Homo sapiens: one gene and its partners. The main gene of each other region encodes a partner of the protein of the gene in region 2 in a complex. Each region holds a gene or a part of one and is shown on either strand. Other genes may lie near its edges. The genes, in order: POLR3K, POLR3F and POLR3D.

Region 1 (2,506 bases), on a different chromosome or scaffold from region 2:
TTCTCCATCTGGACAGAGAAGGCACTAGAAGTGACTCAGGTGTTGTTAGGAGACGTTATTCCCAGATTTGGACTGCCTCTGAGATCAGACAATGGACCAACATTTGTGGCTGCAAGAGTTCAGGACTTAACTAGACTATTAAAAATAAAGTGGAAATTGCGTACATCCTACAGGCCACAGAGCTCAAGTACAGTGCACGAACCAGACACTCAAACAGCTGCTGAAAAAATTTTGTCAAGAAACTCATCTAAAATAAGATCGGGTCTCGCCCATGGTCCTCCTCCAAGTCAGGTACACCCCCACCAAACAAACTGGGTATTCGTCCCGTGAAATATTGTTCAGAAGGCTGCCCCCAATCATTAATCAAATTAGAGGGGATTTAAAAGAGTTAGGAGAGCTAACCCTTAGAAGACAGATGCACTCCTAAAGGAGTGACAATGCAAGAGATGCATGGCTAAGTATTAAAAAAAAAAAAAATGCCTATAAGTCTAACAGACCCAGTACACCCTTTCAAACCTAGGGTCTGTGTTTAGGTTAAAAAATAAAATCCAACCACTCTAGGACCCATATAGGATAGGCCCCATATTGTGATCAGGAACTGATCAACATGTTCAAACAATAAGAAAATAGTCATATTAAATGTAAAGATTGGTGGGACACAGTGGCTCACGCCTGTAATCCCAGCACTTTAGGAGGCCGAGGCAGACAGATTATCTGAGGTCAGGAGTTGGAGACCAGCCCGACCAACATGGAGAAACCCCATCTCTACTAAAAATGCAAAATTACCCAGGTGTGGTGGTGCATGCCTGTAGTCCCAGCTGCTTGGGAGGCTGAGACAGGAGAATCCCTTGAACCCGGAAGGCAGAGGTTGCAGTGAGCTGAATTCGTACCACTGCACTCCAGCCTGGGCGACAGAACAAGACTCTGTCTTAAATAAATAAATAAATAAATAAAATAAATAAATAAATAAATAGTATCTTATACATTTAAAGCAACCCGAGGAAGCAAATCAGGGGAGGTTCAAAAAAATGAATAAGGGAGTAAGAATAGGAATAAAGAAAGAAATTGAAATCCCGGTGATTAACATTTTCGTAGCCTGTTCAAATGTAAGTATGTAGTCTATTCTGGGATCACTGTGATTTGGGGTTTGCTTTCTACCTCTTAAGCTATTTAAAACACTGAGAAGGCAATATTCCAACTTTCATTTAAATGAAATATTCAGAATTTTGATTAAAATAAATAATAAATTACACAAGTTTACAAGTAACAGTTAAATATTTAGGGACATGTACTAAGTTTTACAAACAGTACAAATATTTAAGAGTGTTGATTGGGAGTAAGGGAATGTCAACTGCCAATAAAGTGGAAGATGAAAGAATAGGACTTTACACAGAGCATATTTAGTTATGGGTCTCTGTCTCCTCCCCACACAGAAAAACTCCCAGACATTCATGACTTCATCCACCCTGCCTGGCAGATAGGCCATATTTCCTGACCCCCTGGCTCTTCACCTCAAAAGGTTTATCTTTCCACCACACTAGCAAAGACCCTCAGGACACACAACTCATACTGCCAGCTAAGCATCTACCCCGAGGGACAAGGCAAGCACACACTAGGGCAGCTGGGCCATCCTGGCCCTAATCCCTCCAGCGGTGTCCACACTGAGCATTGCAGCACTTGTAGAAGGTGGTCATCGGCTCATCTGCAGAGCGGGTCTGAAGCTGCATGAAGTAAGCACGAGGATGTTCGCATTTGGGACACGACTCTGGCAATGAGAAAAAAGAAGTGACCACATTTAAAAAAAGATGCTACTCATGGCTGTCAAAAGTAGGTATTACTTAATATGTGGGAGGCCAAGGCGGGCGGATCACCTGAGGTCAGGAGTTCGAGACCATCCTGGCCAACATGGTGAAACCCCATCTCTACTAAAAATACAAAATTAGCCAGGCGTGGTGGCGGGCGCCTTTAATCCCAGCTACTTGGGAGGCTGAGGCAGGAGAATCGCTTGAACCCAGGAGGCAGAGATTGCAGTGAGCCAAGATCGTGCCACTGCACTCAAAAAAAAAAAAAAAAAAAAAAAGTAGGTATTACTATAATATCTTTTTTTTTTTTTTTTGAGATGGAATCTCGCAGTCACCCAGGCTGGAGTGCAGTGGGGCGATCTCAGCTCACTGCAACCTCTGCCTCCCGGGTTCATGTGATTCTCCTTGCCTCAGCCTCCCAAGTAGCTGGGATTACAGTTGCCCGCCACCACACCCGGCTAATTTTTTTGTATTTTTAGTAGAGACAGGTTTTCACTATGTTGGCCAGGCTGGTCTCGAACTCCTGACCTCATGATCCGCCCACCTCAACCTCCCAAAGTGCTGGGATTACAGGCATGAGCCACCGTGCCCAGACTACTTAATATCTTTAAAGATGGTAAAGAACCTCCCTGCTCATTTGATCCCCCTTGACAAGGGTAGATCTACAAACAGTGATGTCATTCCCACCACGCTGTAACACTAAG
Region 2 (3,655 bases):
TCATGTAGTTATGTGGACATGAGTTTTCAAATCAGTTGGGTAAATACTTAAGAGCTTGACCTTTGGACAATGTGGTAAGACTCTGTTTAGTTTTGTAAAAACTGCCCAGTTTTTTAACAAAAGGACTGAAAATTTTGCATTCTTAGCAATGTATGAGTGTTCATCTTGGTCTGTATCTTGTCAGCATATGGTATTACCAATTTTTAGATTTTAGCTATTCTAATAGGTGTGTAGTGGTATCTCACTATACTAAATTTTATTTTAATTTGCAGTTCTCTAATGAAAAATAATGTAGAGCATCTTTTCATATGCTTATCTGCCATCTGTATGTCTTCTTTGGTGAGGTTCAGATCTTTTGCTCATTTTTAGTTGGATTATTTGTTTTCATTGTGTGTTTTTTTTTTTTTTTCTTTTTTTGAGATGGAGTTTCGCTTTTGTTGCCCAGGCTGGAGTACAATGGTGCAATCTTGCTCACTGCAACCTCTGCCTCCTGGGTTCAAGCAATTCTCCTGCCTCAGCCTCCCAAGTAGCTGGGATTACAGACATGTGCCACCACGCCTGGATAATTTTGTATTTTTAGTAGAGACAGGGTTTCACCATGTTGGTGAGGCTAGACTTGAACTCCTGACCTCAGGTGATCCACCCGCCTTGGCCTCCCAAAGTGTTGTTTTCTTATTGCTGAATTTTAGGAGTTCTTTGTATATTTTGGAGACAAGTCCTTTATCAAATATGTGATTTGCAAATATCTTTTAGTATGTAACTTGTCTTTTCATTCTCTTAATGTGTCTTGCAAAGCAGAGGTTTTCAAAAAATTTTGATAAACTCCAACTTATTAACATTTTCTTTCATAGACTACTATTGGAGTTATAGTCCAAGAATTCATTAACAAAGCCAAGGTCATGTAGATTTTCTATGTTTTCTTCAAAAAGTTTTATAGTTTTGCACTTTACACTGAGATCTAAGATTATTTTAACCCTTAAAAGGACACAGAAGTTCACCAACGGATGAATGAACAAAAGGTGATATACATCTATACAATGGAATTTTAATTGGCAATAAGAAGGAATAAAGCACAATATGGATAAATCTTGAAAACATCATGCTAAGTCAAAGTAGTCATACATAAAAGACTACATATTCTATTATTCCATTTATAGGAACTGTCCAGAATAGGCAAATCTATAATAAAGGCAGAAAATAAATTATTCGTTTTTAGGGCCTATGGAAAGAGAGGCTGGGAAACAAATACTAGTGGCCACATTTGGGGGTGATGAAAATGTTCTAAAATTAGAACAGCGGTGATGGTTGCACAACTCTTAGCTTATAGTAAAAACCAGTGACTGTAAATCCAAAGATTTTACACTTTAAAAGGTTGAATGAATTCTGTAGTATGAATGATGAATTATATTTCAGCAGAGCTGTTATTAAACATAAAGATGTAGAAGGAGGACTGACAAAATGAGGCTACATGATAGGGTTTTATTATATGATTTTTTCTACCTTTGTATATATTTGAAATTATCCATTAAACAATGTGGAAGGGAAATGCTATTCTGATAAATAAAATCACTAATAAGCATCAAATTCTTATAAGTGATGTTATAATTCTTATAATTCTTGTTTTATTCAAAAATAAAAACTTGAAGCAACATATGTAAGCGGATATTTGAGGAAAGGTCTACTCACTGCCACAGACCTAACAGCTCTGAAATTATAAAATTTGAATTATAGCTGTAATTCTTATGAAATGTGTATTGAAGCAAACTTTATTCTAGGGGAATCTCAGTTCCTCTGATGTCTAAATCAGTGAGGTCAGGGGCAGATGTCCCCGAGGGAGCCAGCTCTGGAGCAGGGGTGGGGCAGGATGAGGAGCAGGAAAAACACACGTGTACTAGAAGAGAAGCTCCACCAAGGCAGGGATCTTTCTACGACTTGTTCATTAATGTATCCCAAGCACTCAAAACAGTGTCTGGCACACAGCAAACACTCTTTGTTGAATGAGAAAGCTAATATGTCGGGATAAAGTAAATTATCTTACACACCACAAAATCTAGGAAAAATGTTCACAGTTCCAAAGATTCTTCACTGAAGACAGTAAAGTAGTTTTAGATTTTTGAGTGGGTGAGTGAGACACCAAGAGCTAACTGTGTAGGGACAAGTCTAAGCAGCATCTCCAAACCAATCCAACATGAGCTAAATTTTTAAGTCTTTTTTGACCAGCTGTTCTAAATCATGACATAACTTCAAGAATAAAAACTTGAAGCAACATATGTAAGTGGGTATCTGAGGAAAGGACTACTCACTGCTACAGACTTAACAGCTTTGATAAGCTTTTTACTTTCCAGATTCTTCAGAATTTTGTTGATTTCTGTTAATGGCAAATTACTTTTATAGCGGATATCTCTGCTCCATATTCCTATAAGAAAGTAAAGTAAAATAAGTTGAACTCTGGTTTTCATGGATTTTTAATGTTATTCCTCTAACTTGTGTCTCATTCCAAAGCTAGCAGTATAAAGCTAACAGTAAAGAATGCTGGCTAAAGTAGCAAAAGTATGCTAAACAATAAATAAGTATAATGCTTTGTAAGACTTATTATAATGATTTATAATTTCTAACTAGAAATTTCTTGGAATCCCAGTGTGGCAAACTTTTAAAAAACTTATGGAAAGGGCTGGGCATGGTGGCTCATGCCTGTAATCCCAGCACTTAGGGAGGCCGAGGCAGGTGGGTCACCTGAGCTCAGGAGTTTGAGACCAGCCTGGCCAACATGGTGAAACTCTGTCCCTACTAAAAATACAAAAATAATTAGCCGGGCCTGATGGCATGCACCTGTAGTCCTAGCTACTCGGGAGGCTGAGGCATGAGACTCGTTTGAACCCGGGAGGCGGAGGTTGCACTGAGCCGAGATCACACCATTGCACTCCAGCCTGGGCAACAGAGCAAGACTCCATCTCAAAAAAAAGAAAAAAAAAATTATGAAAACGACGTTTTTATAATGGAAGGAAAAATCATGGATGCAATGGAATTTTATCATCTGTACCCTTATCTCTGTTTTCTGATACTTTCATTTTAGATTGTAAATGTGAAATACAAACTTAAATTTGGGTCAAGGTCAACTGCCATCCTCAAGTGGGACAAAAACACTCTTTAGATGAGTGTCTGCATGCATGTAATCCATTATTTATACAACATTGTATTTGTGAGATGGAAAAGGAAGCCTAGGGTTCTTATGGCTGCTAAAAGCCCTGTGTGAGAAGCAATGATTTCTTTTTCAAAGAAGGAAATAAGTGTTATATATGGAAAGGGAATGTATGTAAATATTTTGCTTTATTTTCTTCCCAATGTAATGGCATATGAGATAGGAAGATTAAAAAAATATGCAGAATGGCTTTCTCATAGGACTATTTTTAAAAATGTTAATTTTAATAAATATAAGAATTAGTTATGTAATTTCAGATTACATCTCAATTTTTCCAGCTAATATCAATGACTCAAATAGATCCCAAATTATTGTAACTTAGGATTGCAATTTAGATACAGTTCTTCAAGCGGGTAGAAGAGAAACTATAGCTGCGGAGGGACATCTGTTAAGACACTGCTACACCACACCAGCTTTCCTTTTGGTCCTTGCAAAAACGAGAGGTGTCAGCATCCA
Region 3 (4,222 bases), on a different chromosome or scaffold from region 2:
GAAATTCCACTGTTCTCGCCCTTCTCTGGGGCAGTCTGAACTGAAATTCACTGATTCCTTCCTTATACCTTTTTTCTTCATCATTTCAGCTGGGCCCTGCTCAAAGATGGAGTGAGACTGGATCACTTCTGGACGGCCTCGCCCTCGTCCATGCCCCTCTCGTTGTCGGTCTCTGTCCCTTTCACGCTTCTCCTTCTTGACAGTTACTTCTTCCTTGGGCCTGGAAAAAAGAATGGATTAAGGGAAACCACTCACTCACTGTGTCTCCAAAATCTGGCCTTACTCTCCCATACCACTTCACTCCAAAACAGTGGAGAGTTTGAGCCAATATTTACACCATGAGAAGCAGAATCCAATCCTAATTCTAGCACTTTTCTCACTTCCTTGATGAGGCAGGATTTTTTCAGTTTGCTTTACTTTACCTTCTTGTCCAAAAATATAGATTTTTGTTTGCATTGGGACTGAAAGCAGGAAGGCAGAAATGCAAAGGAACTTCAGGGAAAGTGTGATACATCTTTGTTTAAACTATTGGCTCTCAACTCGGGCAACAAAGAGAATCACTCCATTCTACTGCCAGCAAGTTAAATCACAATTTCTAAAGATGGAACCCTAGACACCAGTAATTATTTATTTATTTATTTATTTTTTAAAGCTTGCAGAATCACCTAGGAGCCAGGGTTGAAAATCACTAGTGAAAAGAACTAAAGATATAAATTTAAATTTTGGAGCTACAAACCTAGTTATTTCCCCCAAAGCCCCAAATTCAGAGCAAGTAAATAAGGGGCAAGTATTCAGAAGGCCTAGCTACTTACTCTTCCTTGATCTTCCGACTGATGATATTTGGGGTGAAGGTTTTCTGAAAGCAAAATACAGGAGTCACTGATGTGTTAGGTTCTGACCCCAAAGTACAGAGGAAAATAAAAATTCCCAAAGGGCATCTTCTACAGACCAAGGCCACCACGGCTCTCGTTGGCACATTCCACAGTGCTGTCAGTTTTATAGATACACATGTGCCTGAAAAGGAGGAATGTCATAGTGTGGTAGCAGTGGAGTTACACATAGAAGGGGGCACCAAAACCCACTTTTAACCAGCAGCCTTAGGTTCTGCCTCTGAAAGAAGATCCTCTGGGACTTCTAAAAGCAAAGGAATTTCTCTGGTCTCACCTCTTCTCTTCAAACTGCTATAGAGACCAGTCAGTATCATGGGGGAACAGCTCTAGCAGCAAGGCCTAAGTAGGGAAGGCCATAGATCTGCCAACACTTTCAATCAGGTGACTATGGACTGTCACCACAATTTTCCAAGGCAAAGTTAGGTTTTTAAAAACTGCTTTATGGCTGGGCGTTGTGGCTCATGCCTGTAATCCCAGCACTTTGGGAGGCCAAGGTGGGTGGATCACGAGGTCAGGAGTTCAAGATCAGCCTGGCCAAGATGGTGAAACCCGTCTCTACTAAAAACTACAAAAAGTAGCTGGGCGCGGTGGCGGGCCCCTGTAATCCCAGCTACTCGGGAGGCTGAGGCAGGAGAATCGCTTGAACCCGGGAGGCGGAGGTTGCAGTGAGCTGAGATGGTGCCTCTGCACTCCAGCCTGGGCGACAGAAAGAGATTCCCTTAAAAACAAAACAAAAAACCAAAAAACCGCTTTATTCGGCCAGGAGCGGTGGCTCACACCTGTAATCCCAGCACCTTGGGAGGTCGAGGCAGGCGGGCGGATCACGAGGTCAGGGGTTCAAGAACAGCCTGGCCAACATGGCAAAACCCTGTGTCTACTAAAAATACAAAAATCAGCTGGGCATGGTGGCGGGCGCCTGTAATCCCAGCTACTCAGGAGGATGAGGCAGGAGAATCGCTCAAACCTGGGAGGCAGAGGTTGCAGTGAGCTGAGATCGTGCCATTGCACTCCAGCCTGGGGGACAACGGCGAGACTTCCTCTCAAAAAAAACCAAAACCAAAACCAAAACCTGCTTTGTTCTTCTGTCATCCTGACCCCACCCCTTTCTGGGCTACTCTTGACATCCACAGTCATATACACATGGGAGAGGCCACAGAGCCTCGAATGCCATACCTAGGATTCATCATACTCTAGATAAAAAGTTTGCACACAGAGATGGTGAATTCTGAACCCTCTAAGACTGCGAAGTTTATGCCTGTCTGGCTTTCATGGGTTTCTTAAAGATGTCCAAACACACAATAAAAGTAAATAAACACTGTTCAAATTGCTTTTGAACGACTTTAACTTATTAGGATTCTCTGCCCTTCAACCACCTCTGGGAGTCATTTCAACATCTTGTACTCAGTACCTAGATTTGAAGGTAGGACAGACTCCCTAGAATTTAAAGAGGGGTAGGCTTGAGAGGCCCAACGACAGTCCTGACACACAGTAGGTCCTACACAAACATTAGTTGAATCCTGGGGCTTGGAATTCAAGGTAGTTGAGTTTCTTTAGAAACGCGCCGTTGGGTACCTTCTTGACTCCCCCGAGGGTGAGGTCCCTGGAACGGATGGAGGGAAGGCGGCCGGGGGTGAGGGGAGGCGCCGGCCGCCGCCCGATGAGCCCCCGGGCCCCAGTCAGGAGAGGTCGGGGCCCTCCCGGCGTGCTGGGCTCGCCGGCGGCGTTTCCTTCCGACATGTTGCCTGGGAGAGAAGGGGCGACGAGATCACCAGAGGGGACTGACACGCGGACCCTGGCGGAACCCCACCCCCTTGCTTTCCGGTCCCCCAGTCGGTGCGTCCCTCCAGTGGCCTCTCAGCTCCTCCCCTCCCACGTGGCGAGACTCCCGGGACCACCCAGGTGAGAGCCTTTGGCTCGCGACACGCCCTCTCCAGGAACCCCGCCCAGGAACCAGACAGGGACGCACCCGGGCCGCGGCTCCACACCGCGCGTCACAACCTCACCTGCAACGCGACCAGCCGCCAGCCTTCGGTCTCCGCGCCGGGCGGAAGTCTGCGTGGCAGGGCCTGGGCGCCGCCATCTTGGCGCGGGGCGGAAGTGACGTTAGGGGGGCGGGACTGGGCCACAGTATTTATCAGGCGGCGCTTCGCTCCCCTCCGCCTTCTCTTCCCGGTTCTTCCCGGAGTCGGGAAAAGCTGGGTTGAGAGGGCGAAAAAGGATGAGGTGACTGGTCTGGGCTACGCTATGCTGCGGCGCTCGGGGGTCTTGGCCTCCGGGCGGTGGCGTGGAGGCGCCAAGATCAGGGTCCCGGGTTTTGTCGGCCACCACGCCGCAATGTGAGGATTCGCCTCGGCGGAGCCCCTGGGAGCTTCGGGGTAGCTGCTCGGGATGGGGCGAGGGGCGCGGCGCGGCGCAGAGAGTGAGACCTGGACTTAAGAGTCGGGGAGTCCTGGGCCACACCGAGCCCTGTCTGCGGGTTCTCCATGGTGACCTTGGAGTGGTCATTACCTCCGGGCAGCGACCTCGCCCACTTTCGGGGACCCCTTCCCTGTGCTCCTGGTGGAGTCCTGGGGTGAGGCTGTGGGGGCAGCTTGGAACAGCCGCAGTGGACCAACCGGTGCCCAGTCATACCCGCTTCTGATCACGAAGGCGGTGGCCCTCGTGTGCGCTCTTGGTCAAAGCCTGGAGGGAATTGGAATACCAAGTTTGCTCTACTGCTGGAGGAATTTAAAGAACTTTTGTTGACTCCAGCGTTTGTGATTTAACATAAAAGGTGTCATTTAATGTTATCCCCCATCCCCCAGACCGTATAAAAACCATGTAACAATATTATGGGGAGTTTGAGGAAAGGAAATCATTTCTACCAGAATGCCACGTAGAGTACTACTATTAAAAATTTTGTAATGTATCTAGTAGTCTTCACAGAGTTGTCGTATCACAATTTCGTGTCCTTTTTCTTTTCTTTTCTTTCTTTTTTTTTTTTTTGAGACGAGGTTTCTCTCTGTTGCCCAGACGGGAGTGCAGTGGTGCGATCAACACACCGCAACCTCTGCCTCCCAGGCTCAAGCCATGCTTCCACCTCAGCCTCCTGAGTAGCTGGGACTACAAGTGCATGCCACCACGCCCGGCTAATTTTTTCTTTTTCTTTTTTTTTTTTTTTTTTTTTTTGTATTTTTCGTAGAGACGGGGTTTCACTATGTTGCCCAGGCTGGTCTTGAACTCCTGAGGTCAAGTGATCCCACCCGCTTCGGCCTCCCAATGTGCTGGGATTACAGGCATCAGCCACCACGCCTGGCCTGTATCCTCCTTTTTCAAATAACATTTCTCTGTTG

The links.
Region 1: POLR3F (region 2) and POLR3K share a complex: the UniProt entries of both Homo sapiens proteins name them as parts of the RNA polymerase III complex.
Region 3: POLR3F (region 2) and POLR3D share a complex: the UniProt entries of both Homo sapiens proteins name them as parts of the RNA polymerase III complex.

What each region holds. Positions count from the first base shown.
Region 1 is NC_000016.10:45,793-48,298, forward strand, and holds the end of POLR3K (DNA-directed RNA polymerase III subunit RPC10), read right to left. Parts: intron 1,766-2,506; coding exon 1,638-1,765; 3' UTR 615-1,637; downstream 1-614. UniProt on the Homo sapiens protein: Core component of RNA polymerase III (Pol III) which synthesizes small non-coding RNAs using the four ribonucleoside triphosphates as substrates. Can mediate Pol I proofreading of the nascent RNA transcript.
Region 2 is NC_000020.11:18,473,836-18,477,490, reverse strand, and holds part of POLR3F (DNA-directed RNA polymerase III subunit RPC6), read right to left. Parts: intron 2,417-3,655; coding exon 2,304-2,416; intron 1-2,303. UniProt on the Homo sapiens protein: DNA-dependent RNA polymerase catalyzes the transcription of DNA into RNA using the four ribonucleoside triphosphates as substrates.
Region 3 is NC_000008.11:22,243,855-22,248,076, reverse strand, and holds the start of POLR3D (DNA-directed RNA polymerase III subunit RPC4), read right to left. Parts: upstream 2,945-4,222; 5' UTR 2,894-2,944; intron 2,633-2,893; 5' UTR 2,628-2,632; coding exon 2,463-2,627; intron 857-2,462; coding exon 813-856; intron 221-812; coding exon 69-220; intron 1-68. UniProt on the Homo sapiens protein: DNA-dependent RNA polymerase catalyzes the transcription of DNA into RNA using the four ribonucleoside triphosphates as substrates.